4 separate regions of the Homo sapiens genome follow, and all the other regions are linked to region 3. The links come from fine-mapping of genetic effects on gene expression. A gene starts in region 3. Each other region holds a variant in brackets. All regions are shown on one strand. Distances are between the middles of the regions.

Region 1 (8,120 bases), 87 kb after region 3:
GAAATGAACCAAAACATTGAAGATTTTACAAATCACCCTTGTGCTGATACTGACAAAGCTTATGAGATTTGTCTCGTGAAGTTATATGTTTTTTATATTGAAATAGAATATAAGAACACTTGAGGAAAATGTTGCTCAGTTAAACATAGTAATAGAAACTGACCAGAGAGTTCTATTCTTGATTTGCCACCTTCAGCAGTTACTCCTCCAGCCCCTACTGTGGGTATGACAGTGACATTTTTGCTTCTGGCGAATTCTTAAGGATAGTGATGTGTATCGGTGCCTGTTTACTATGAACTTGTTTGATTTTGTTCTCTTTTTTGTTTATTCCTCTTTATCACTATACTCTTATGCCTTCAATATGCATTTTTAATTTTTGAAGGGACATTTATCCTCAGCAATTCCTAATTTAATTTTCAGCATTACATCCACAGTCCCAGTATTTATCCACACATTTACTGATCTGTCAGTCTTTTTCTACAGGCTTATGCATCATTTGTTTACATCTCATATACTTTTCTGCATAATAGAAATCACTTTTTTTCTAAAATTTCTTTATTCCATCTATAAGGCAGAAGGAAGTTTATCCATTTGAATGAATAATCAGCTTCATTTAATTTCAATTTCTGTCATAGAGTGTCCTTAATTCAAAGTCTGATATTCATGTTCTTTTCAGTTTGGCACATATTTAAGGCTTTTGAATGTTTTTTTGTTGTTGTTCTATTCTACTCTTCTTACACTTTAGGTAAAAAGATATCTTTCTTTTTTGCAAATTTCAGTTTATCCTATATAAAGATAGCATGTAGAAGAATAGGATTTAGAAAATCCGGGTTCTGGTTCTAACTCTTCTGCTTATGATTTTTATGACCTTAGGCAAGTCATTTTTCTATAGAATCATCAGTTCAACAGGCATAATGGTATTTGCTCTTAGACCTAGCAGTTTTGCTATGAGGACCAAATGAGGAACAGCAAAACATTGCCAATTGTGCAGACTTCAAAAATATCATTTCGCCTCACCAGAAAGTTTGAGTTTGTTTGTTCAGGGTGGGATTTGGCCATTAGTTTCCAGGAATTTTAACTGTACAGGTGTGTTTGAGAACCACTAAGGTAAAGCATGTTGACACATTTAGGGATGTAAGTTAGTAGCAGTAGTATGAGATTTAGCACAAGACCATGCAGTACATGACCTTATTGTACTGAAAAGAAATAGATTAAGTTAGGAGAAGTTCAGCTTGCTAGTTGAGCAGGTATTCATACTGAGGTAGCTTCATCAAGGTGGCCATTTGTTGATTCACTCCATTAAGATTCCCATGATTCAGGAACCTCCTTCTTTTCACCTGATTTTCTTAGATTTGTTGGGGTCCATCAAGTTAAACTTCCCCAGGTAAAGTGAAACCCTGAATGCAGTGCTTTCCTTTTGTGCTTTTTAGCCATTATTTTATAAGATGTTTGTTATATTATCCTATGCCTATATATTTCCATAAAAGTAATGACTTTATACCCTCTGAACAATGAGCAGCAGGTGATGGGGGGGACATATGTGTATTTGCCATGTGAAGAATACATTTCAAGGCCAGCCTCAGGAAAAATGAAATTCCTTCTGTTTTACATTATATTATCTCCTGTTTGTAGAACCCAAATAACAAACTTGGCACAAGTATATAAAAACAGTAGTTACAAAATGAGTGGATGGTCCCCAAAACTTTAACTTTTAATGCATGAATCTATTTCCCAAAATTATAACATAAGTGAATTTCCTGCTTGGGGCTTGAAAGAATGAACCACTCAGAACTTACCAAGATTAAAATAAGAAGAAATTGAAAGTTTAAGTAGTCCTATATTTATTTTTCAAATAGAATTTATAATTGGAAACCTTTTCACAAAGAAACTATCTTAGTCCATTTGTGTTGCCATAACAAAATACCTTAGACTGGGTAGTTTATAAATAACAGAAATTTATTTCTCACAGTTCTGAAGGCTGGGAAGTCTGATTTCAAGGTGCCAGCATTTGGCATCTGGTGAGGGCTGCTCTCCTTGCTTCCAAGATGGCGCCTTGTTATTGTAACTTCACATGGCAGAAGGGATGAATTATGTGTCCCTGTGTGGCAGAAGGCAGAAGAGCAAAAGGACTAGCTAGTCACCTCAAGCTATAGCTAGTTACCCCAAGCTTTCTTATAAGGGCACCAATCTCACCTATGAGGGCTCCACCTTCATAATTTAATCACTCACTAAAGGCCCTACTTCTTAATACCATCACCTTGGAGGTTAGGTTTCAACACAGTGAATTTGGGGAGAACACATACATTCAGACCATAGCAAAGCCATGAGACCTAGATGGCTTCACCAGTGAATTCCTACAAAAGTTAAAGAAGAATAATACCACTATACTAGAGACTAGAAAGACAGTGAACACATTCCAATGTTGGGAAATAGTTCTCATTGGCTCTAGTACTATTTGTTAGCTCCAAGCATTTGAGATCTCATGGAATTCTTATGCTGAGAGTATAAATAACCATCACTTTGGAGGTTAGGTTTCAACGTAATGAATTTGGGGGAACACAAACATTCAAACTTTCTCATGGTGAGAGCATAATTAATTTGAAACCACTTTGTGAAATGGTTTGCCTATTAAATGTGAACATGCACATAACCTATGACTCAGCAATTCCATTCCAAGGTATACACCCTTCATGAATATGTATATAAGTCCACCAAAAGATTTGCAAAGCATGTTCTTAGCAGCAGTATTCATGATAGCCCCAATCTGGAAACAACCTAAGTGGTCATCAATGGAAGATGGATATGTGAATTGTGATATATTCATACATGAAATAATACCCAGCAGTGGCAAAGAAGCAACCTCTACTATATCCAACAGTGTGGCTAAATCTCACAAAGAAAATGTTAAATAATGAATGAAATAAATCAGTGAAATAGAATATGATTCCTTACTTACAAAATTCTAACACCAGCACAACTTATCCATGCCAGTAGCTTTGAGGGTAGTGATTAGTTGGAGGGTGTTATTTACTGGAAAGGGAAACAAAGGAGCTTATTGGCTTCTATTTCTTGATCAGAGTGATGGTTACACGGATATGTTCGTGTCATAAAAATTCATCAAACTATAAATTTATGATTTGTATTTTTTATAGCATGTGTTTTATATTTCAGTTTTGTTTTTGTTTTGTTGTTGTTAAGTAAAGCACTCAGAAAATATACTAAGTATGAATAAAGTAGCCTGGAACAACTTTAAGGGAGACACTGATAAGCAGGAACTTAAATCTTTCATTTCTGTATTCTCAGTAGATTTAGCATAAGTTGTGAGTGAAGTGTGGTTCACCTAATCTCTTACCACACTGATCTACATGGTTGGTTTATTTTATATATATGAGAGACACTAAAAAAAAATCTCCCCTTTCCTTTAAGGGATGAAAAAATAGTTCCTTTAGGGACAGCTTATGGAAGTTTATAAAAGAATAGTAATAACTTGTTCAAATCTGTTTCATTGTTTTAATGGCATGCATTTAATACAATTTGTGGTGATTGAAGGGAACTCTATCCATGGAATGCTTATGAAAGCTTAATTGCAGCAAAGTACCCTCAACCTGATGGGATTTTCTTTTTTCTTTTTTCTTTTTCTTTTTCTTTTTTTTTTTTTTTGAGACGGAGTCTCACTCTGTCACCCATGCTGGAGTGCAGTGGCGCAATCTCGGCTCTCTGCAACCTCTGCCTCCCAGGTTCAAGCAATTCTCCTATCATCCTCCTGAGTAGCTGGGACTACAGATGCACGCCACCATGCCTGGCTAATTTTCATATTTTTAGTAGAGATGGGGTTTCACCATATTGGTCAGGGTGGTCTTCAACTCCTGACCTTAGGTGATCCACCCACCTCGGCCTCTGCCTCTCAAAGTGCTGGGATTACAGGCGTGAGCCACCGTACGTGGCTGATGGGATTGTTTTCATTAGATATTTAATAGAGGTCACGGGGCCTTAAAATTATTAAATATTCTACTTTTCTTATTGATAGTATGTG[T/C]TCATACTGACTCAGTAGCCTTCTCTATTGCTGTCATGGTGAGCTGATACAATCCATTTTCTTTGTAGGTGCAGGTATTTGGACTGTATTCTGGAGAAGAATTTCACGAGACTTTTGACTGTCCCATTAAAGTAAGTATTCAGCAAGTTTTACTTTTTCTAAGGGTTTTCTCAAGTAAGGCAATATGGATTACAGTAATTTGAACATTACCACTTCTGTATTAATTTTGTCAGTAAGTGTCTGTTCAACACTTCAGATGTACTGGATACTATTTAGATGCTGTGAAAGAAGACAGAATGTGTATTTTGTGACTGTGATCTCAGTCTGTCTTCAGGGGTATTTTATTATAGTGAGTGAGATCACTCACACACACATACACACACACACGCACGCACACACACACACGATCTGTGGTAAAAGACTCAAAGAGGTAGGAATAATATTAAGCGTTCCAAAGCTGAAAGGAATCACTTTTAGCTGTTCTTGTCAGTGATGGCTTCATTGGTGGAGTGATGTTTAACTTGGCTTTAATAAATGGAGAAGGACTGATGAGAGAAGCTGGCTTTCCATGTGGAAGAACAACATAATAGAAATGGAGAGGCTAGAAAGTTCACCTTGTGTTCAGGAAATGGCAAATTGTCCAATTTATTTGGTACATAAAAGACTGATTTCACAAGAGAATGTGAAGGAAGATTGGGCTGGCTTTACATTCAGGCTGAAGAATTTGGACTCCATTTGGTAGATAACTAGAAATTACTAAATATTTAAGAACAAAGTAAATAAACTGAACTAAGCTTTAAGAAAATTAATATGGTGACTGTATACAGTATTGATTGAAGGACAGATAAGAGTCAAGAGGACTAGTTTTAGATAAAAATTATGGTAGTTGAGGTGTCTATTATAGTTGTTGAAGGAAGAGGTCATTTATTTTTTTCACCTGTTTATTCAAACATTTATTGACCAGCAGGTAAAGGAGAGATAGGGTCTGATGTATGTTTTAAAAAGTTGAATTTGCCAGAGTGGAGGGTGATTTAAACAGGAGAGTGATTGGGGACAAAAGACAATTTAGAAGCCTAATATAATACTCTAGGCAGGGCATTACAGGATCTCAATGAAAAGAATGATAGTGAGTGTTCAAGATGGAAAGGATGAAATTTATTTGGACAGCCTGTGCTAAATAGACTTAGCGAGCCTTAGTGATGGCTTGGATGAGGGTGATGAAAGACGGAAGAGCTCAGGGTCAGTTCAGGTTCTCGCTTTGGGGATGGGGTGTGGGATGCCATCAGTTGCAGTAGGGTATGTTTGAGTAAGGACATGGCTAGGCTAGTTTGGTCCTGAGTTTAGATAAGTGTAGTACATCAGGTGGGGACGTTACGGAGGTTTTAGAAACATGAATATGGGCCTCAGGATGGAGATTGGCCCTTAAACACAAACGTGATAACCATAGTTGAATAAGGTGAAGCTATTTTTAAAGATATTATCCAATTTAGAGCTGTAGAGTGAGAAGAGAAGACTGATGGTGAAATTCTGGAACACTCTAACTTGAATACTCAGGCTGTGGAAGAAAAAACAGCAAAGGAGTCTAAGAAGAAGCAGTTGGAGGGACTGTAAGGAATCCCGAAGAGTGGTGTCAGAGAAGCCAGGGGAGAGAGGGTTTCTACAAGGAGGAAGTGGTCAGCAGTGTCGAATGCAGTGTGGAGATTAAATAGGGGGAAGGACTGAAACAAGGGCATTCTATGTGGTGATTTTGAAGTTACTGGTGACCTTGCTGAGGACTCTTTTCAGAGCAGGAGGGTCACTATACATGAAGGAATAAATTGGAGATGAGGAAGTAGAAACAATCAGCAGAGACTCTTCTTTAAAGAAATTTAGTAATAAAGAAGAGAGATCATCTGGTAGAGAGAGGGGCCGTGTCCTGGGAAGGTTTTTGCCGACCATGTTTTGGTTCATGGCAAAAACCAGTGAAGAGGAAAAGATTAAAAATAAAGAGAATGCTTCTTGGAGCAGCACTAAGCAATGAGATCAACAGCTTAGGTAGGGAAGATAATCTTGGAAGAGTCCTAGACCCTCTGCCTGTGAAACAGGCATGAAGGAAGTGGACTGAGCCTAGCTATTGCAAGTTAGACAGTGAAGGAGGAGCACTTGTGGGCAATGACCCTGATGGCTTTATTTTCTTACATCTGAAGGGAAGAAAAGGGTAACATAATGTGTTTGAGGAGCAGAGGAGATGTTTGGAATCAGTCCCTGATCTACAGTTATGCATTACGAGAGAGCTAGGGGGAGAGTTTAAGAATGTGAAACAATAGAATGTGTGAATCCTTCACTACTGGTATTGAGGATGGATTAGGAAAGTGTTGAAGGGAAGAAGGGCTAACCTGGGAGGTAGGAGTGTTTAGAGCAATGAAGGATCATATGCTAATCCTTAAAAATGACATTGTAGGAAGAGGAATCTATTCCATTGTAGGAGGGAAATGTGTCAATTAATACAAGTATAAAATATGTTTAATTGAAGGTATATAGAAGTAAAATTGTGTGAGATTTTGTGTGTGTGTTTACCTAAAAAAAATTCTCTATGTTAAATTAGAAAAACACAAAATTAGTTAAGTTGGTGATTTCATGGGTGGTTTGGGGATAAAGAGAGAAGGAGGTGGAGTCTATGCAAGCTTACAGCCACAACAGATGAGCTCCAAAGATGGAGGTGCACTGAGTGGAGCCACGAGGGCTTTTGTTTTCATCCCCTCCCCAAGATGTTAATGATGTTATGTAATCATAAAGCCCTTGCAAATGAAGGAAACAGTAACAAGGGTGGTGGAGCAACCTTAAGAGAAACCTGGGTAGCAAGGGGCTGGAGAAAGATTGGATGAGTGGGAAGCAGATGAGAATCAGGGGAACAGGTTGTATCTAAAAAGCTAAGTCCTGAACGGTTAGCTCTTTGGGCCTGTAGCTCTGTTCTCTCTCCATTGATGGGGTCTTGGTGTAAGTGGGCTAAACGTCTGGGAGGCTGCGTTGCCACTTGGTGCCGTCTATCATTGAGAGTCATCTTGGACAAGGAGTTAGTTGGCTTCTTTCTGTTTTTTTTTTTTTGTTTTGTTTTCTGTAAATTGTATCCAGTTAGAAACAGTTGTGACATCTTGCTACCTTGACCAACCTCCCTTGACCTCCCTTGCTGCCTCTATACAGGTGACATCCACTTATAGGGGTCCTCAGCCAGAAACTAGAACTGACTTATCCTACTCTTTGAGCTTTGACCTGGCTTCAGAGAAGAAATCTTTTCACGTAAGAAGAAAACTCAGATGTCATCAGTTGTTGTAAAATATGATTTGAATATATTACTTCCTACCAAGGTTTCAGGATAATTTTTAGATCATGCTGCTTGAACTGTGTCAGGGGTTTTCATTCTGTGCATTGGCCATGACTCCTAAACCAGAGTTGGGTTCTGTTTCTCTTGTAGATTATTGCTGTGCACCCACATTTCGTGAGATCCAGTTGCAAGCAGTTTGTGACCGGAGGGAAGAAGGTAAGTGCTGTGTGTCTCTACCTTGATATGTAGCCTTGAGGGGTGTTGTGTGCTTACTCTGTAATTTATCCTTAATGTTTTTATGTCTGGCTATTCATTAGGAGAAATTCGAGAAAGACAAATGTAATGAAATCTGATGATCATCATCTCTTGGGGGAGTTGTGGCTTCAGTGTTTCTCACTACATTGCTTTTTTTGTTGAGACGGAGTCTTGCTCTGTCGCCCAGGATGGAGTGCAGTGGCGTGATCTTGGCTCACTGCAGCCTCCGCCTCCTGGGTTCAAGTGGTTCTCCTGCATCAGCCTCACGAGTAGCTGGGATTACGGATGCCCACTATCGTGCCTGGCTAATTTTTGTATTTTTAGTAGAGTTGGGGTTTTGCCATGTCTCTACTAAAGACATGGCCTGGCTGGTCTTGAACTCTTGACCTCAGGTGATCTGCTCTCCTCGGCCTCCCAAAGCCCTGGGATGACAGGCGTGAGCCACTGCGCCCAGCCTCTTGCTACATTTCTTTGAAGTAGATATAGGACAAGAAAATAAGAGAGCTGTTACATCTAGAGCTTTGAAACATT
Region 2 (8,120 bases), 120 kb after region 3:
CTGTGGATCCTGGGCTCCTCTGATGCTTATATAAATGATGTAACATTTGCATATATAAAATGATGCGGTATTTGCATATAACCTATGCACATCCTCCTGTATACTTTAAATCATCTGTAGATTACTTATAACACCTGATACAATGCCTACACATCACTGCATTTGCATAGACTTAATGAAGTAGTTGGTGTACAGCAAGGTCAAGTTTTGCTTTTTGGAATTTTGTAGAATTTTTTTTTTTCCTGAATATTTCTGATCCTTGTTTGGTTAAATCCATGAATGTAGAATTCATGGATGCAAAACCCATGGATATGGAGGGCTCACTGTATTATAACAACTTTACAGAATTATGTTGTAGAAGAATCTTTAAATAACATATTGAATTACTTGTATTAAATTGTTAGGTTAATAAAAGTAGCTTTCATAAAAAAGATTATTAATGGTGTTCTCTTTGTGCTGGAACAATGACTAATGCTTGTTTTCCCCTTTGAGTTTTTCTATATTTTAGAATTTTCCATACCATAGTTACAGTTAATGGTAGCAGCTATAAAAGAACACTATGTAAAAGAAAAAGGAAAAATCCCTGATCACTGACAGAAGTTGTACTTGGATTAGTACTTGACTTCAGGTTCAGTCTCACCAGGAAAGCTGAACTTATGTGAATCAGGCTTTATTGAGGAATAAAGTTGGTGAATATAAATAGTGATTGCTATATGTCATTTACATTAATTTCTGTCATTTAAGTCATAGGGTAGATTGTACTCCATCTGCAGTGCTACAAGGTTAATTTAACAAAGATACCATATACTGAATAAAATGTTATGAAGAATTTTCCATCAAATGAATAAAATAACCTGCGAACTTATTTTCCAGGTGTGCTCAGTGAAGGAACGGCATGCCAGTGAAATGAGGGATTTGCCAAGTCGATATGTTGAAATAGGTATGGCTCCAACACTTGCCTTCTGTGGATGTAAAACTTCATTCAAAATTTTCGTCTTCATTAATCTCACCCAGACTGCCATAGTCTTTTGCCTGGATCCCTGCAGCAGCCTCCTAACTGGTTTATCTTCTTCCACTGTGAATTACTGTCATCTGCTGTCCCCACTGCTGTCAAAATACAGATCAGATCTTGTCATCATCCTTCAGTTCCTCCACATCGTTCTCAGAGTGCAGATGGAACTCCTCAGTGGATCACGGGGATCTGTGTTGGCCCCTACCCACCTCTCCAGCTGTAGCTTATGCCAAGCTTCTCCTTGGTCTCTGTGCTGCAGCCACACTGACCTTTTACCTGTCCATGCCTCTCTTTCCCCTTGTCTAGCACAGTATTTGGCTAGAGTGTTGCTTTCCAGGGAAAGCACTGGGAAAGCCACTGGACCTCCCTGACTGAGTCAGGTCTTCCCATTTTAGGCACTACAGCACTGCAGGCCTCCTCCCCTTTCTAGCACTTGTCACGGGTTCCAGTGATCCTGTGATTATTTGATACATTTCTGTCTTTTCTACCTGACTGTCACCTCCTTTTGAGCACACACAGGGTCTGTTTTTGCTCACCATTTGTATCTTGAGGACCTGGCACAATACTTGCACATAGAAGGTGCTTAATATTGAGTTGAATGAATCAGTGACTCTGGGAAACAGCTGTTCAGGAGAAGTATGCCCTGGATGATGTACCATGACTTTTATAATTTAGTTTGAAAAAATTAATCTGAGAAAAAAAATTGCCATATTATGAGTCAGCTGAAAAGTTCATTTGCCCATTTGCTTGGTGGATGGGTAATATCAATTTGATGGGTTATTCTGCCAAGGTGAAGTTGAAATAAATTATTTGCACATGATTGTATTTCTGTAAATAGAAAGACATACATTACCCACATGACTAATGTGGTTATAACATTTAAATCTGGGCTATTTTGTACTTGAAGTCAGAAGTTGGTGGTAGAGTTTTAATCTTTTTTTTTAACTTTAGGAGTATAACTACATAGTTCAGATTGCTTAGTGTATGGACAGTAGGTATATGAAGAATGTAGCAGTGCTGAGAAAAACTGAGGACCAAGATAAGAGACAAGATTTATGACTAGACTATATAGATAATTGTTTCAATATCTTTTTCTTCTTTCCTTGCCTACTAGAAAATAAAAAGAAAAACAAAAGCCTCTCAACATCTCAATGCAATGTCCTGAGAGATTAGTATTTGGATATTTTTAATTGCCAGAGAGGTATAAAAATGTAGCAATTGTCATCTTCTTTCCTTAGCTGATACTTATTGATCATGTACTAGGTGGAGGGCATTGTGCTGCTTACATAAACTGCAGTAACTCACTTTATCCTCACAGGAACTCTTTAAGTGCAGGTAGTTTGCTTTTTATTCTATAGATGAAGAAATTGAGGCTTAGGAGGTAAATGACTTGTCCAGGATCTTACTACTATAGCGTTAAAAATGGATAGAATCTAACTCTACAGAACCACCAGAAAGCTTCCAGGGAGGCAAGGAAGTTTGCTGAAGTGTGTGATCTTGATGAGGTTACTTAACCTTCTTGACCATCCTTTTCTCACCTGTTAAATGGAGGTGATAATATCTATCTTTTAGGATGGGTGTGGGAATTAGACATGGCATAAGAAATGTGCCTAACATGGTACTTGGCACACAGTAGATGCTCACTAAACCATGATGGTTATTATCACTATGCAGACTTTCATCCCAACTCTGTGACTGCTGATAGCTGGCTCAGTGGTGGCCCTATTAGCCTAGAACCCTGGGATCACATTATTGCAGTGTGGTTCATCTGTACTGTAATTTACGTGAAATAGACCATATGTGGATACTAACAGTATCACATTACTGACATTTTACTACTATGGTTAATGGTTAAGTACCATTTTTTCCCCTCTTAAGAGTAAACCTTTAAGAATATAAGCCATTTCCACAGCAGGAGGCAAAATAGTTTGGATAAGAGTCCTTAAGTAGGATAACAGAAAGGGAAATATTAGGAGGTCTGGATTACAATTTCCTTTAGCCCTGAATAGTGTGAGCCACTGTTCTTTGGTAAATGAGGTGAAAATGGCATTAAGATTAAAGAAATACGTATGGCTGTACATTTCTTAGAAGCCAATTGTTTATAACTCTTTCTGTTACAACTCAGACTCTCAAAAATAGCACGAAAGTTATTCCTATCACATAGGCTGTTGATTTATTCTGTTAAATGAAAAATAATAATAATATAATGAAGATTAAGCTTCTTGGCCAATCACCAACACATGAAGAGATTCTCTATACATAGGGCTTTTGGGACATCATATTTTCTTTCAAATTGCATTGTTAAAAATAGATTATGGTTTGTGCCTAGCATCCATGTTTTAACTTCACTTGCATCTCTTGTATTCTCACAGGACTCCCTGAGCCTCTGGTACTTTTCACCAAAGTCTTCCATGATCTCTGTGGTATGGTAGTTGGAGAGCTGACATCATGATGTTGGGAAATGAAACCAATGTTTGTGTGTCATTTTCTGGGAGTTTTCTGCCAGGGGTAGTTGACTTACATGCAAGGAATTAATGATTGACTTCTTGGTCTTAATTTCATGTGGAATTTTGTTTAATTGAGATTAAACAACTATATGAGAATCTATATAGAATGACAAGTCAGGAAGAAAGGGAAGAGAAAAGAAGGGAAATCTTTTTTACTTTCAGTATTGTCTGTATCTTCATTGATCATATACTGTGGTCTTAGAATTTAGCACATCATTCTTTTTTCAGTCTTTTAATTGACTGAAAAAACAGTGACCTGAAAATTGGTGATCTGTTTTCATAGTGGAGGAGAGTTGTGAGATAATTCTTTCCTAGATCTAAGTATCTCTCTTTATCCACCTGTTACCATTTTGATTCAGCTATATGGGTTACAGTAGTGGGATCTTTGTGTGTGTGTGCCCAGGAGTGATGTGGTTTCATCTCTTAGTCTGAGTCTCAATAGAAATGATGACAGCTGGCATTCTTCAAGGTGTTTTTACTTGAGGA[T/C]CTAGGTATGTATGGTTTTCTGTTCTGTTATAGATAGTTCAGTATAAATTTCTGTAATAATCTGTTCTGCATTGAATTTTTTTTCTAACATTTTGTTATGAAATTTTCATTAAAGAAAAGAACTTTGTAGTGAATAGAACCTCCAGGATTCTGCAGTTAAGATTTTACTATATTTGCTTTATTACGTATCTGTTCATCTATTCATTCCTCCTTTTGGGAGGGATGTAACAACTCTTTCCCCGCTCAGTAGTGTAGACTCAGGTTTTTGTTGTTAGGAGTGGAATTAATGAAGTTTCTCCATAATAAGTAATGGTAAGAAATCTGAAGCACCTGAAGTAACAAATATATATTGTTCCTTATATAACAACCACCACCAAGCACAGTGCTGAATACATTGCAAACAGAAGGTCATCTAATCTTCCCAGTATGCGAGTGGGTAGCGGCTACTATCCCCATGGTGTAAGTGAAGAAGCTGATGTTCAGAAGGGTTAGGTAACCTGCTCAAGATTATTCATAAACAAGGCAGTTTTTGCACTTAGGTGTGCCTAGCCGTAAAGTTGTTGCTTGTAATCATGGTGTCACACAGTGCTTCCCATGTTTCCTCTACCCAGCCCCTGGCCTTTGTTTACAGAGTCTTGTTCCAGACATTCAGATACAGACCACTGCAGAAATGCTCTAGAATCTGAAGACCCTTTTTCTATATCAGTGATGATAGCTGCTCACCTTTTCTAGGAACTGCCAGATGAAATGGAAATGCAGTAGATTTGTTTTTTTATTTTGGTTCAGAGAAATATCTCATTTGGAGACTTAGAAATTATATTTTCACTTGCTTTATCCTGAGATTGAGAGCTTTTCTTCATTGCTTCTCCTCCACATTTTTAGATAATTTATAGAACCTGATTGCCTTGGGTGACCTTTGGAATTGTTTCTAAGGAAAGGGAACCAAACTTAGATTATGCTTCTTTCAGCCCTTTTAAAAAGAAGAAAAGCCCTTGTTTGCTATTTTTTAGTGTTTAGCTTAAGTTTAGTTGATGCAACAAGGTAGTTTTATATTTATAAAATAAAGTGTAACATTTGGTTTGAACCTTGTGATTAGCAGGTCATTGGCAATGCCTTTCCTTTTCTTTTGTCTAAGCAATGTGCTGTAACATACTCACTAAATATTCCTCATCAGTGCTGTTTCAGGAGACTAAAATTTGGTAGATGAGATAATCCTATCAGCTTAGTGTTGTCATTTAATTGACAATAGTTTGCTGAATATTGATTATAAAATACGGAATTAAATTGCAAACTAAATTTGTTTTCAGCAGTTTTTTATCTGTGTGTACTGTTCGGCTCCTGTCTGATTTGAATGTTTTTGTTATTTTGTCCATTAGCCATTCTTTTCAATTTCACTTCATGTAGCAGATCTTCTCCATAATTTGCTGATGTAAAGCATTGTGAAGTCAGTTTTACTTTAATGTGTCTGCTTCTTAGCACAGCCTGAAGCTGTTGAAGTGCCGTTATTTCCAAATGTATTTTCAGTGATAAGTGGTCATGCTGACAGAATGTCTAAACTTATTGAAAAGTCTGTGGGTATTACATCCAGTTGATTATAAAATACTAATATCTGGTGACTAAGGGGCCAGAATCTCTTGGGAATAAGACACTATCTATCATAAAGGGCCCTCAATGCATTTTCATAAATGAATATAAGACAATGAAGGGTAATTGTTCTTATTTGTAAATTGCTTGACACACATTTTTGTTTGTTTCTTTAAGAATCATAGAAGCTAAGATCTATGGGATGTCACCTTATTTAACTTCAATAAAGAAATCTGGGTAGCATTTAGCTAATGGACATTTGGGGACCAATAAGGGAATAAGAAATGGGGGAAAAGAGGCAGTGCAAGTTCTGTGTACTGCAGCGCTTTAGCCCTTGCAGCAGCACTGCAAATTCAAGAGAGGGGCTGGGGCACCCTGACTGCATGCAGCAGAATCACCAGAGAGCCCTCACTTCTGTTCTTGCCAACTGCAGTGTGCTTTGAATCTAAGCATCTCTGTATTCTTATATTCTTCCCCTTCCCCTCCTCCTTCCCCCTAACTCCCCCCCTCCTTCTTTCGATATAGGGTCTTGCTCTTTGCCCAGGCTTTAGTGCAGTGGCATAATCACGCCTTACTGCAACCTCAGCCTCCTGGGCCAAAGCGATCCTCCCACCTCAGCCTTCTAAGTAGCTGGGACTACAGGCGTGCACCACCATGCCTGGCTAATTTTTTAATTTTTTGTAAAGATGTGGTCTCCTTTTGTTGCCCATGCTGGTATCAAACTGGGCTCAAGAAATCCTCCCACCTTGGCCTCCCAACATGCTGGGATTACAGGCGTGAGCCACCATACCCGGCCCTGACTTACATTTTCTAGAGTGACTTATGGTTGGGAAAAATAGGACTTCAGATTCCTACTTCTCTTATCTTCCACTTAAGTGACTTTAGTCAAGTTACTTAACCCCTCTGAGCCTCCTTCCCTCTCTAAAATAACCATAGGGTGGTTGTGGTGAAAAGCAATATTGTATGTAAATATTTAGCATACTGCCTCACAGCATAGTAATGTTCATTAAATGGGAGCTATTATTAATATTAGTATTATATTTAGTTACAGTGAGAGAGAAAAATAGTGGTTTCTTTTAAAATCAGAAGATCTGAAAATTGTGTTTTATAAAATTTGTAATTTAAAGACAATTTGGGGAAGATGTAAATAAGGGTTTACTGAATGATTCCGAGGAGATTGATAATGTTTTATAATTGCATTTCTCAATAAAATGTATCTATAAACATATATGACAGAGGTACAAGTAATAAAAATATTGATTTAATGTTGTCTCATAGGTTTGAATACACAGATAAGAAGTGAGATAACCTAGTTGGGAATTATTGGAGGATGGTTTTTTACTTTAAACAAATTTTGATTTTTATCCTTTGTAATCTAATATCCATTAGGGTTTTAAACAGTTTTTTTTTTAAATGAAACGAAGAGGTTGTTTTCTCTCATGTTATCCACACCATTTCTGGCTTAAGGGGCTTATGGTCATGATTATTGCTGCTGTTTCCACCCTCATCTGTACCTCCTCAGAAGCTAAATTTTCTTGCGCTGTGCTATTTTTTGTTTTACACCTGTTCCTGTTTTTGCACATAGCATGTGGTATTTTAATTATCTCTTTTTTTTTTTGAGACAGAGTTTCGCTCTGTTGCCTAGGCTGGAGTACAGTGGCACAATCTCGGCTCACTGTAATCGCTGCCTCCCAGGTTCAAGCAATTCTCTGCCTCAGCCTCCCAAGTAGCTGGGATTACAGGCGCCTGCCACCACGCTTGGCTAATTTTTGTATTTTTAGTAGAGATGGGGTTTCACCTTCTTGGCCAGGCTGGTCTTGAGCTCCTGACCTTGTGATCCACCTGCCTTGGCCTCCCAAAGTGCTGGGATTACAAGCGTGAGCCACCACACCTGGCCTAATTATTTCTTTAAATATTCAGACTCACAATCTCCTTTAAGTTAGGGTCAGGTCTTAGTCATCTTGATGCATCTAGAAGACTGTCTCGTGTAATTGATACTCAGTTACTCTTTTTTCTTTTTTTTTGAGGCAGAGTCTCGCTCTATCACCCAGGCTGGTGTGCAGTGGCAGGATCTCAGCTTACTACAGCCTCTGCCTCCTGGGTGCTCGCGGGTTCAAGCGATTCTCCTGCCTCAGCCTCCCAAGTAGCTGGGGCTACAGGCACGTTGTCACCACTGCCAGCTAATTTTTATATGTTTAATAGAGGCGGGGTTTTACCATGGTGGCCAGGCTGGTCTCGAACTCCTGACCTCAAGTGATCCGTCCACCTCGGCCTCCCAAATTGCTGTGATTAAAGGCGTGAGCCACCGCACCCAGCCTCAGTCACTCTTCATTGACTTAAGTTGTAACCCTCAGAGATTATGAGACCCAAGGAATGAGAAAGTTCTTTCTTGTTAATTTTTATACCAATCATATGGCATTCATTATGCAACTGATGGTGTGTATGCTATCGAGGGCCAGACACTGTTGATCTATTTGTGACTCTAACCCTGACCCCATTGCCCTGGGCAATGTAAGGTTGATGTATTAAAA
Region 3 (5,000 bases):
ATATCTTTAATAAGACCCATAACACCCTTCTTGAGAAAGAGAATAAACATTCTCATTCCAGAAAAGTAGAAAGGCCAGGAAGGCCCAGAGTGGATGGCCTTCAGCTTTGCTTGCTTGGGCTGCTTGACTTCTCACCAAAATAAAATGGAACCATAAAACAAAAATGACCTTGTGGTTAAGACAGTGGTAATAATCCCTTATTTTCCTTCTTCATCCCAATCTCATCCATTCAGCATAGAAGAGGAGATTGCCCAGTTGGAGAGGCTGTAGTCCTAGAGGTTTATGGGTGGCTGTCACTCATAACAGAAAAGAGAAAATTGGAGTTTGTGAGGAAAGTCAGAAAAGTGGAAGAGCTCATTTTATTTCTCTTTCCCGTGGATACTCGACTGAGGGCTTCCACAGTCTCTTTGGTCTGTATTAAAGTTTTTCTGGGATCTGGAGTTCATCATGAGCAATGTTTGGCCCTGGGCTGCTTTGCAAGAGATTTTAGAAACTCTTGGGTTAGGTTTATACTTGCCCTAGGTTTATACTTAGGGCATTGGGTGCTTGCTTATGGATTTCTTTTTTCTTTTTTCTTTTTTTTCAGATAGGGTCTCACTCTGTTGCCCAGGCTGGAGTGCAGTGGCACCATCAATGCTCACTGCAGCCTTAACCCCCACCTCAGCCTCCTGAGTAGCTGGAACTACAGGCGCACACCATTATGCCCGGCTAATTTTTGGTATTTTTTGTAGAGACAGGGTTTTGCCATGTTGTCCAGGATGGTCTCAAACTCTTGAGCTCATGAAATCTGACTGCCTTGGCCTCCCAAAGTGCTGGGATTACAGGTGAAAGCCACTGCACCTGGCTGCTTATAGACATTTAAATGCCTCAGGGTGGTCTATCCTGTCGGCTGAGTGATTAGCCCACTGGAAGAGGAACCCCAGCAAGGCTTGGAGGAAGAAGATGGAGGTAAGGCTGTTTAGGCCCTGGGGAGAAGACAGGTGTCTCAGAGATGATGTCACCTTGGCTTCTGGGCCATTGAGGAATCATGGGTTGAGCAAGCTACAGACAGAGTACTGAGTCCATGACTTCCTACTGGGTCAGAGTCAATGAGGCACAGGGAGTCAAAAAAGGTACTGAGGCAATCACCACATGCTGCCATTTGCAATGCCCTCTGCTGGTCACCAGCTACTCCAGTGAATGGAAATTGTAAAATGTCTGTCTTTGGACAAGGTGCTGCAGATTCCTGAGGGTTAAGAAACAGAATTCATAATGTTCAGAAACATGGAGAAGGAATCAGTCATTCTGAAGGCTGGAAGTAATACAGTGGTTGTGCAGATTTTGACCAAGGACAACTTCATATTGTGTCTTCACTTGAACATTTACCTATTGAATATCCTCAACAAAAGTTTAACAATTAATTTATTAAACAACAGAGATTTTTTTTAAATCAATGTTCATATGACAGGAGAAGACAAAGTAGCAAGCAAAAATAATGATATTATTTGTTGGCGTATAAATTTTCTCTGACTCTCCACTGCAAAGACTGCTTTATATTCACTGAATATACTTAAAAAAGAGAGAGAAAAAAGGACAAGAACACTTTTAGAGTAAGCAGCATTTGGCAATCACAGAGACTTTGGCATCAGGCAGGGCTGAATTCTATTACTAGTTCTGCCTCTTACTAGCTGCATGACCTCTGAGCTACGGTATTCTCCCCTATAAATGGGGATGATAGTAGGAATTGCTGTGAGGATTAAATGAGATAATTTATGCAAAGCTATAAACCCAGGGCATGACATAGTAAGTGCTTAATAAACACTAGAATAACTAGAGAAACAAGAACAACAATAAAATAAGCTATAGTATTAGCAATGGTTATGTTCACATCCTTCAAAGCAGAATTCCATTGAGTTTGGAGAATTGGCAGCAGAAATGAACCCTAGCAGGTCCGTCCCCTAGAAGAGATTTCCAGGCTCAGATGAAGCTAAAACTACATTTCCCAGAAGGCCCTGGGCCAAGTGTGTGGTTTCCTCTTATTTCCGGGTCTGTCAGGTGACTCTCCCGTGGCGCCATGGCGGAAGCAGAGGAGCAGGTAAAGGGTGCAGGTGGTAGTTGAGGGCACAGGGATATAGAGACTAGGGTGGGCTGTTTGGGGAGGGTGGAGTGGAGTGGGTGGAGGTGCGGAGCTGCTGGAATAGCGCAAGGCAGGTCCGCGGCAGGGCGGGGTGGGATGGCGAAAGTTGGTTTCGGGGAGCAGAGAGGATGCCAGCCCCGGGAGGGCACCTAGGGAAAGCGCTCTGACACACCCCCGCGTTCGGGCTGCCTTTCCTCGGGCCCCATCCCTGTGGCCTTTGCCCAGGGAAATTTTGGCATGAAGGCAGGCCCGGCTACCTCAGGGACTGACTGCCTGTGGGAGGAGGAAGAGAGGCCGGGTGACTGAAATTTAAGTTGCTTTCCACTTGAAGTAGGACAATAAGAACTAGGAGAGAGTAGACGATGAGTTTTGTTTTGTATCTATTGGAGTTAGGTACAGAGCTGGAGCACTGTTGCGGTGCAGCAGGGATTAAATGCATCCGTTCTGGAGCAAAAATGCCTGGGGTCCAAGTGCTGGTTCCTTTTCTTACCCAATGTGCTACTTTGAGCTACTTATTTAACTTTCCAGTGTGAGATGGGGGTAATAATAAGGCCGTCCTCAGAGGGTGGTTTAAGATGGAGAGAGGAGTTTATACACAAAGTTAGAGTACTTAGAACTGTTGGGCTTAGTAAAAATTAAATGGGATTATTTGTTGCTGGTAGTATCCAGTCAACAACTGGCAACGTGGCACTGAAGTTTAGGGTAGAAATTGGTGATGGGAATATGAATTATTTTCATATAGCAGTAGTGGTAATCACACATTTTATGAAATGACGAAGTAAAATAAAAAAGACAAAAAAGAGAAGCAGACCAAAAAAGAGGCTAGAACTTGGGGGAGATAACTTAAGTTTCCATTTCCAGTGTTATTTCAGTTGGATACTGTTTTTCTTCACAAGTTAACAGGGCTGTCAGTTGCAGTCATTGTCTCTAAACAGTGACTTGATGATGGGCTGTTTAGTATCATAAGAGTCATTTACCTAGTTCAATAATTTTTACTATTTTCAACATACTTCATTTGTTTTTACTTCATAGTGAAAATTTGTTCTGTATATATTTTATATATGCCAATAATTGAGACGTTTGACTAGGTAGAAATTTGGTTTGGCTGGTCCTTGTGATAACAAGATAACAAAGTCTCTTATCTAACACTAGAGACTCCTATTTCCATTCTAGCAGTTCAAAGGAAAACACTCATTAAGAACATATCATTTCATGACTGCCATTGCTCCTTTGAATAAGGGTGAGATTGTTTTTCACATTGTGCATCTTTATTTCATGTTGAAATGTTTGTTTTATGGTTTGATTTGAAAGCAAAAAACTGAGTTTCATATGTTCTTAGATATAGTGGAATAGAAATGGAGAGAGTTGCTCCTAGAAAAACCATTGTTTTTTCTTCCATTGAAAAAAACCTATGAAATATTTACCACTGTTTAGTGCAGAAGAAGAATTTAACAAAGTTGTCTGATATAAAAATGACACATACAAAATTAGGGATATAATAATGTTTCACATTTGTACATTATTTTCTAGTTTTAAAAACCCTTCCATATTGCATTTGGTCTTCCCAAAAGAATTCTATGAGGTAAATGTTTACTCTCATACATGGGTGAAACACCTCTGATATTCTAGACTTTCCAGGGGCTTCTAATCTTATTCAGAGGAAAAGCCACAGCCATTACGGTAGCCTGGTTGTCCCACAGGACCTTGACCCAGCTGCCCTTAGCCACCTTTTCTTGACCTCATTTTTCCCACTACTCTCCTTCCCTTCTGTGACTCTGCATCAGCTGTACTGGCTCTCTTAGTCTTCAAAAAGCCAGGCAGGTTCCTATCTCAGGGCCTCTTTGCTCATGCTGTTCCTTTTTGAGGAACCCTGATATTTACAGGCTTCCTCATTTCCTTCATGTCTTTGTCCAAGTGTTCTTTTTCATTGCGACCTTCCCTGACCATGCTTTGAAACCTTCCTGCATTATTTTTCCCTATAATGTGCATCACCGTTTGACATACTGTATTATAAAATTTGTTTTTTTTTTTTTCCCTGTATATTTCTGTGTACCTCTTACCACAGAGCTTGGAACATCCTGACAAGGATTTGTTCACTGCTGTATGTCCAATACCTAGAATATTGCTTGTTACTTAATAAATTTGTGTTAAATGATTGACTTTTACTGATAAACAAATTGAAATTCAGGCAACTTGAGTAACGTGCTCAGGCTTATATCTATAATATAATAAATCTCCAGTCCTCTGTCTCCATAGCTCATGACTTTTCACTAGAATACCCTACCTTTTTAAAATATATGTAAGAACCTAAATCTAAATAGTTTTTTTACTTTATGAAGTAGAATTAGCCCTTTCCATTTTAATGATTTTCCCTCAAGCCACCATTCCACTTTGATGCTTTAACAGCCAATATGTAGTTGGAGTGGGCATTCTCCTCTCCAGTGGTGTCAGTATCTTAAAAAGACTAGTCGTGGACCAGGCACAATGGCCCATACCTGTAATCCCAGCACTTTGGGAGGCCAAGGTGGGGCGATTGTTTGAGCCCAGGAGTTCGAGACGAGCCTGGGCAACATAGCAAAACCCTATCTCTACAAAAATTACAAAAATTAGCCAGGCATGGTGGTGTGTAGTCCCAGCTACTCGGGAGGCTGAGGTGGGAGGATTGCTTGAGTCAAGAGGGTCGGGGCAGCAGTGAGCCATGATCGTGCCACTGCACTTCAGTCTGGGCAACAGAGCAAGACCCTGTTTAAAAAAAAAACGAAAAACAAACAAAAAAAAACCCAGCAGTCTGTTGTAAATGGCTGAAAGACACATTCACAAATTGTTCAGTTCTTTTTTTTAAAAGAAAGTAAGTAATTGTACCTAATCTTATCCTTTATAGATT
Region 4 (8,120 bases), 590 kb before region 3:
GGAACTTTTCTCCCAGATATTTGCAAGACTAGCCTTCTCCTGTCACGTAGATGTCAGCTTTCAAATCCCGTCCTCAGAAATGTCTTTCCTGTTTCTAATCTGCAGTGGCCTTGTCCCCCCACTCCCAGCTCTCTTGTTTCACCATCTTCTGTTTTCTTTGTGGCACCATGTCTATCAGAAAACATATTCTATCTGATAATTCTGGTTTACTGCTTATGTATTTATTGTCTGTGTTCCTTCACTAGAACACAAGTTTTGTATTTATCACTCTAGGCTTTTATTGTCAACCATGTTCGCAGGCTTTAGTGATAGGGTAGGTGGATTGGAGACGGGGAAGGAAAAGGGGAGGGGAACAAAAACCAAAACTGCCTGGACAGGGCAGATGCCAAGAACACCTGGGGCATGGAATTAGGAAAGGGAGGTTTGTAGGTTTGTAGAGGAAACACTTCTGAAGGGCCACAAGATGTGTGACAATAAGAGGGGAAAAGAACAACACTTTTAAAGAAGTGCTATTGGGTGTGTTTATGTTCCTTGAGAGATTCAGGAAAAGACGAAAGTACTCTTTAATTATTTTGATTGCAGTAATGTGTATATATGACCATGATGCCCTATGTAAAAAGTAGCCTGGATTTCACAATCCAAGAGGTAGGCCTTGTTAGAACACCGTCCTCTGCTGAAATTCTGGTTTTGTGTATCAGTCTCCATAAAGGTAGTCCCTAGAATAATACAGAATTACTTTTGGGTCTCTATAACTAAGGATTCTGGAACAGCCCCTCACTCTGCTGCCAGTGGGGCTAGACAGTACTCAGCACATAATGAGAACTGAAGAAATGTTATCTCCTAGGGAGACTGCAGTGTTCATGAGCCAGGCAGAAGGAAGATGGTATAGATGGTGCTGGGGAGGCAAACTGAGGCTCTCCCCCAATCGTAGGTCAATGGGGGAAATACTGGGGGGGAAAGAGAGGGAGGGAGGGACAGGGAGAGGGGGAGAGAGAGAGAGAGAGGGAGAGAGAGAGAGAGAGAGAGAGAGAGAGAGAGAGAGAGGTGGCTCTTATTTGAATAAAGTATTATTATTGGACTTGATCTTTTGGGAGAATACAGTGAGAAGAGAACATTCTAGAAAATGGCTGCTTGTTGAAATAGGGGCAGAAAGACCTGGTACTACTCGTTCCCCAACCTTTTAACTTGTAAAGAGTCATGGGTTAATATGCTGCCCTAGGCATCGTAAGTGTACCCAGGGCATTTTGGTAGTTAAGTGTCAAGTAAACTGTCTGAAGGTCCGCAAATGGGATATTTAGAATGCCTGACTGAACAGATAGACCTCTGCCCAAGAGCCTGATGATGAGTAAGCAGCCACTTTGGCAGATGGCCAGGGCAAAGGGTTCCAAGTCTGAGTACCACTGATGAGAATGTCTCATCATTTGAGATTTGAGATTAAAACTCTAAAGACTCAAACTTCTTGGTGCACCTGTTTGCATCCCTGGTGGGGACAGGCCTGGAGGAGAGGGGGTCTGTCTAACACACTTAAGTCCCAGCCACCTTTCCAAGTGGTCTTGACCAAGGACAGCACACGCATTCTTGACATGTTCACTTGTGGACCACCTTGGTGTAAGGAAATCAGGACTGGGGGGACAAACTCGGATATAGCTTTCAAGATATGATCAGGCATGAAAATGAAAGTAACATGTTGAATAGGTGAAAGAAAATTTTATTTTAAATTCTTTTTGAATAATAGCACATTCTCAAGAAATCCCTAGAATTAAGTATTTTTGTCAATTATTTAGTAAGTGCCTAATTTGCTCTTGCTAGGGAAGAAAATTACATGGTTGTTCCTAAATTATTAAACAATATTTTCATGGCATTGACAGAGCAAGTAGCAAGGTATTGACCAGTCACCCTGCTATAGGAAAACTCTTGGGCAGCTCTGTTTTATCTTGCTAGGTGAAATTGAAGAGAAAAAGTAATTAACTCCCATGAGCTACATCTGCAAACTCTGATGGAAAGTCACACATAAAGTTCACTGTCTTTTATAAGACAAAGTAGAAAAGCTCACAAACTAATTCTTTTAAAAAATGCCTTAAATGAACTTCAAGGCTGAAATCTTATTATCATCCAAAGTTTCATTGGTCTGGCTTTGGAGAGGAAATGTAGTTTGGGGGTGAGATTTACTCAAGCTTTTCTTTATGGAATTTCATAATCCAGCCAATCTTCTTTTCTTGCTTTTGTAATTCATCTGTATATCCCTTTCAACACTTAGAACAGTGAATGAGTGAATGGACTTTTTCTTAAGGTTGACTTCTTGCTACATCCGTAAAGATGACTCTGGGGAGAAAAGAAAGGGAGAAATTGGAGTGAAAGATAAATACTAAAAATAGCTGTCTTTTGATTCAATGAATTGGGTTTAGACTGCTGTATGCTTCGTCCAGTTGCTCTTCTCTGGGCCAGGGACCTGCAATGATCGAGGAATGGGGAGATATCATATTTTGGGAGAACTTTTAATCACAAACTCAAAAGTGAATTTCATCCTTCTTGGTATTGAGGGGCTGCCAGAAATTAACTTTTTCTTTTCCTTCCTTCCTTCCTTCCTTCCTTCCTTCCTTCCTTCCTTTCTTTCTTTCTTTCTTTCTTTCTTTCTTTCTTTCTTTCTTTCTTTCTTTCTTTCTTTCTCTCTCCTTCCTTCCTTTCCTTCTTTCCTTCCTTCCTTTCTTTTCTCTTTTCTTTTCTTTTCTCTTCCTTTCTTTCTTTCCCTCTCTCTCTCTCTCTCTCTCTCTCTCTCTCTTTCATTTTTGAGACAGAGTCTCACTCTGTTGCCGAGGCTGGAATGCAGTGGCACAGTCTTGGCTCACTGCAACCTCCACCTCCCAGGTTCAAGCGATTCTCATGCCTCAGCCTCCTGAGTAGCTGAGACTACAGGCGCCCATGACCATGCCTGGCTAACTTTTGTATTTTTAGTGGATGGGGTTTTACCATGTTGATCAGGCTGGTCTTGAACTCCTGACCTCAAGTGATCCACTCACCTCAGACTCCAAAAGTGCTGAGATTACTGGTGTGAGCCACCACACCTGGCCCAGAAACATTATTTAGATACAGTTTATAAAATGAAAGAACATTTATTAGGAAAAAGATGATTCTTTTATGGGCCACCTACTCAGTGCCCTTAATGTGCTAGGTACTCATGTCATGGATTTTTCACATCAACCCTTTGAATGATGATTATTTCATCCCCAGTTGATAAGGAATTTGGTACTTCAAGAGGTCAAATAACTCGTTCCAACTTTCACAGGAAGGGCAGAGAATGGCAGCTGGGATCTGGACCCATTTATCTTTAACATCAAACCATGCCGTGCTCACTTAGAAGCGCCTGGTAACAGAAGTGGTCACTCCATTGGAGTTGCTCACACTATAGTTGGAAAGACAAGGAGTAGGCACATGGAGAAGGGTCCAGAGTGCAGGGGGAGGGTTAAGATGCATTGAGCACCTGTTATGAAGCAGTGCTAAAGACCATCTTTGGAAAAAGGCCTCTCTCTCAGATGGCTAATGGGCCAGTAAGTTAAGCTGAGCAAGTTTAAGTAATTTTTCCAAGGGTCTCCCAATCAGAGCTTGATTCAGGTTCAGTCTGATGTCAAATCTTATATCTCCTGAGATGCTTCATGCTTCAACTTACAGCAAAGACCTCCAAAAAATATTGTCAAGGAACAATGTTTGTCTGTGTGCCTGGTAAGTGCTGTTGAGGTGGAAAGAAGGGAAAGGACATTGAGTCAAGTTAATTAGGAAAAGTAGAACTGTGTGAGCCAAAGTGGAGGCGGGAGCGATATAGCCGGGGTTGAACTGAGCTCTGACGCCAACGGCATGGCTATCCTTTCCATAGCCGAGAAAGCATCTCAGAAGGAGAGAGAGAGAGAGAGAGAGAGAGAGAGAGCGTGTGTGTGTGTGTGTATATAGTGATTTGTGCACCTAGAGTGGACTCTGTGGCAGCTCCCCTC[A/C]CAGCTCTCTAGTGGCCTCCATGACCCCCAGCCTTTTGAGTGTGACTGGGAAGCCAGAGGACAAAGAAAAGGTGGCAGGAGAGCAGGTTCTCCTCATGGAGCTCTGGGCTGTCTGCAATTCTGCCTGTGCTAACCCTCTAGGGGTTACATCTCTTTAACCCCTCACTAAACAATGCTAAGGACAAAACATTCCAGACCAGAAAATGGCCCACCTGGGGGATTATGGCTGCCTTACTAAGTTTTACTGCCTCCCTGTGGATTCTGTTATTTGGGCAGAAGTTGGTCATTCAAAAGATTGAATACAAGTGATTCAAATAAGTCAGTGATTTTTCAGAGGGTACATATGGATATTACTTAAGAGTGGGTAAGACCTTTCTCTAGAAACCATCTTTTCATCTTCCAGTCCTAAAACTTCCACATTTTCACTGTATAGTTTGGCGAGAAGAATAACCAAGAGCTCTATGCTTTCAGAATGTTTAAGGAGACTCTTTTTTTTTTTTTTTTTCTGAGACAGAGTTTTGCTCTGTCACCCAGGCTGGAGTGCAATGGCGCAATCTTGGCTCACTGCAACCTCTGCCTCCCAGGTTCAAGTGATTCTCCTGCCTCAGCCTCCCAAGTAGCTGGGATTACAGGTGTCTGCCATCATGCACAGCTAATTTTTGTATTTTAGTAGAGACAGGATTTCACCATGTTGGCCAGGCTGGTCTTGAACTCCTGACCTCAGGTGATCCACCCACCTCAGCCTCCAAAAGTGCGCTATAACAGGTGTGAGCCACTGAACCCAGCCTAAGGAGACTCTTTTGAATTAGTTGCAGCTGCATCTCGAATATCTTCTTTCCCTTTCAACAGAGTTTCAAGGCTGGTTTGGTTCAGGTTTATCTGAGTATAAACAAAGGATATGCACAGTCACTGTTATTTAAGCTCTGCCATGAAACATTATTCATCAGTCAAACATTGTGGCATCAAGTTGCCTTAGAGTTGAAAAGGTCAGAGGGGACCTAATCATCATTTTCAGTAATCATTTTACCATTCACACATTTGGAGATACCACAGCACTTACTTCAAATGCTTCTTCCTCAACGCATAAATTACCACATCCCCAACTTGTGTGTACACACACACACACACGTGTGTGTGTTCTTCAATGTGTGTGCAAAAGAGAATACGAGGAGTTCTGAGAACATGATCTGAAAATCTTTCCAATTGTCTATGATTTAGGAAAGTCTTGTACTTTGTAGAAGATCCTAAAATTCTGAGCTCATGGAAGACTTGGCCAAAGGAGCCAAGTTTCTGGATTTCTTATCTGGCATTCCAGTCCCTATGTTCTGCTGTGCAAAGGCTGGGTGTGTTTCTAGTCTATGAGATTGTGATGTTCAAAAATAGAAATAAGAGAGAGAGATTTTCAGCAACTGAGCATTAATATTTAAGATCCTTGTGGGAAAGGGGAAATGTTATGGTGTAGTCAATTATAACGCCAACTTCTTCAATCTCTATTTACTTGGGAAAGGTTTCAGAGATGTGGTCTTAATTCCAGTTGAAACTGATCTTTTCATGTTTAGAGGGGACTGGATATTGACAGTTTTCTTTCCATTTGTTCAGAAGTTTTATTTTTGGCTTATGATAATCCTAGCGTATCAGTAACCATGCAAAAGAATAAACATGATTATTATGTGTTACTAGAACATATTGGTGTTTAATGTGACTTCGATACTTTCTTCTTCCCATTTACAAGCAACTGTGAGAAAACCTTCTGATAGAACTGTTTAGTCATTTACTTTATTTATTTCATTTCACAATAATTCACACATTTTTAAAGAGCGAAGATTCATGCTACTGTAATTGCACCCTGGGGCCACTAATTCGGGTGCCTAAAGGCTCAGGCTGGTCTGGCAAATTGAAGTCTTGAAATTACATGCCTTATGTTGGCTGATATGCCATCTTTGGTTGTTGGCATCTGTTTTCTTCTGTAAGGTTCGTTTTCCCCCCTGAACATGGAATATTGTCAACACAGACTATAGTCCAGAGGGCCAACTGTTAAGCTGGGATAACAAGGAGTTCTCTGGAGTACCAGTGCCTCTGCAGTAATGCTGAAGCTTTTCTTTTTTAAATGCTGGTTTTGAGACAATCTCCTGCCATCTTCATTTACTCCGAGTGAAGGATTCTAATGAAGTCACCATGAGTAATGAGGCTCAGTCCCGTAAGTCCTCTCCTGAGGGGACTGTTTCTGCCACCTGGTTGTTAGCTGTGTGATTTCTGTCTTTGTCTTTGGTATTTGCAGGGAAAGGGCTCTGAGAAGGAGGTGAGCTTCACCTTGGCAAATTCTCTCCCAGCGAAATGAATACAAACAGCTGATGTCGTGACCCCCCTCTGGTTCCACACATTCAGCATGTTTGACACTGTTAGCAGCCATGGTGCAGGCCCAGAGGACATCAGCAAGTAGATTAAAATGCCCTTTTCTCCCAGGAGATGAGGCCTGTGTCTCAGTGGGCAGAGGCAGGGACAGCCTGGGAAGCTTTGATGGAGATGCTGCAGAACTCGCCTTTCAGGGTGTGTCTGTAGATATATGAATTATTAATATATTAAGTGGGTTTCGTCTTCCTTTAATTTCCCCCTCCCAAATTCCAAAAAGCAAACAAGGAATTTGTGCTCACTTGCAAAAAGGCCAGATAACTTGGTGTTGGAAAACAACTTCTTTTTCTTCTGTTAGTTTTTGCAATGATGAGCTTATTGAGGAGACTGGAGGAGGAGAAACAGGAGAGAGACATGTGTGTCTTTTAGAGCAGTTGGTGGGTGTGTGGAAGTGGAGAGGAGAGAGAAGTCTGAATCTAGGTGCCAGAACTCCAAGGTTGACAAGGTTTTCTGTGCCTGAGTAAAATAGTAGGACCACGTGCCTTCAAGAGACTGCAGGCTTGGACCACGAGACCATCAGTGGTGACTGGAATAGATAGAAGAAGAGAAGGTGTGTGGCCGGGTGCAGTGGCTCATGCCTGTAATCCCAGCACTTTGGGAGGCCGAGGCAGGTAGATTGCTTGAGGTCAGGAGTTCGAGACCAGCCTGGCCAACATGGTGAAACCCCATGTCTACTAAAAACACAAAAATTAGCCAGGAACGGTGGTGTGTGCCTTTGGTCCCAGCTACTCAGGAGACTGAGGTAGGAGAATCGCTTGAACCCGGGAGGTGGAGGTTGCAGTGAGCTGAGATTGTGCTACTGCCCTCCAGCCTGGGTGACAGAGGGAGACTCTGTCTCAAAAAATAAATAAATAAAATAAATAAATAAGTAAATAATGAGAAGGGTGAAGGGTGTCCCTGAACCATTTGTTCTGTCAAAGCTCCTGGGGCCTTTTCATCATTGTGGGGAGGAAGAAACACTCCTAATGATGACTGATAGCTTCAGAATCAGATTGAGTTTGATTTAAAGGAGATAAAGAGAGTGACTTTTACATGTGTTAAAGTCTGTGGAATCACATTCATCCCTGCTGCCCATCTCACTGCACAAGGAGAGGCCCTGAAGACCTGTGACATTAGCCCAACTGAAGAGCTGTAACTTGCTTCTTCCAAAAAGTTTTTAGTTGAAGAAGCCTAACAGACAAGGAGTGTGAGGAGTGTTACTTTATATATGACAAAGAAATTGCATTGTCATTAATATTGCAGGTCACTGCTTTGAGGGGGAAAATCCTTGTTTTATTTTCAGATTCTTAGCAGGGTTGATTCTGAGGCATAGAAAACTCAGGAGAGTTGGGCCTTCCAGACAAATGCATTTGCCTTGATGAAACACATTTGCAATAGCTCTCCAACAATGGCCTAGAGACTACTCACAATTCACATTGGACTTTAAAAAAATATATTTTTTATCCTGTTTTGAAAATGGACCAGGTTTGGGGCACTAATTCACACAGCTACCACACCCACTCTTTCTGCCCAGAGAGTGAAGAGAAAGAATGGGTCAATCAGCTGACATATTTCCATCCAATTTCAAGGATAGAATGTGTTCATTTTCTGACTAATGGCATGTCATTTTGCAGAAGCCTTTGGTCGCGAATTAATCCTGGAATCAAAACAGATTTTCCGGGGAGCAATCTTCCATCAAGTATTGATTTTTTTACACTCATGGAGTCTGTACTCCCTAATTTAACCTGA

Which allele goes with the higher level. Alleles are on the strand shown, and positions count from the first base shown. SD is a standard deviation of normalised expression in the study named. Not every link is listed here.
For the expression in hypothalamus of the gene that starts at base 2,037 in region 3, T is the high allele of the variant in region 1 and C is the other (small effect, 0.35 SD a copy in GTEx).

The links. PIP is the estimated chance that this variant, and not a neighbour inherited with it, causes the effect. A credible set is the group of variants that fine-mapping cannot tell apart.
Region 1: its variant is the best candidate, but not a certain one, in a credible set for the expression of VPS41 in hypothalamus (GTEx, PIP 0.78).
Region 2: its variant is the best candidate, but not a certain one, in a credible set for the expression of VPS41 in pancreas (GTEx, PIP 0.72).
Region 4: its variant is the best candidate, but not a certain one, in a credible set for the expression of VPS41 in neutrophils (BLUEPRINT, PIP 0.70).

Annotation. Positions count from the first base shown.
Region 1 is chr7:38,817,247-38,825,366 of GRCh38, reverse strand. VPS41 (VPS41 subunit of HOPS complex) reads left to right here. Exons shown (of 29, transcript NM_014396.4): 6 at 4,102-4,164; 7 at 7,485-7,550. Among named protein-coding and RNA genes, the nearest start is that of VPS41, 88 kb to the left of the region's middle. The variant T/C (reference allele first, on the strand shown) is at 4,034.
Region 2 is chr7:38,782,621-38,790,740 of GRCh38, reverse strand. It overlaps VPS41 (VPS41 subunit of HOPS complex), which reads left to right. Exons shown (of 29, transcript NM_014396.4): 10 at 874-940. Among named protein-coding and RNA genes, the nearest start is that of VPS41, 120 kb to the left of the region's middle. The variant T/C (reference allele first, on the strand shown) is at 4,006.
Region 3 is chr7:38,906,228-38,911,227 of GRCh38, reverse strand. VPS41 (VPS41 subunit of HOPS complex) reads left to right here and starts at 2,037. Exons shown (of 29, transcript NM_014396.4): 1 at 2,037-2,074. The coding sequence starts at 2,054. RefSeq lists an enhancer at 1,930-2,029.
Region 4 is chr7:39,498,349-39,506,468 of GRCh38, reverse strand. No RefSeq gene overlaps it. Among named protein-coding and RNA genes, the nearest start is that of YAE1-DT, 64 kb to the left of the region's middle. The variant A/C (reference allele first, on the strand shown) is at 3,984.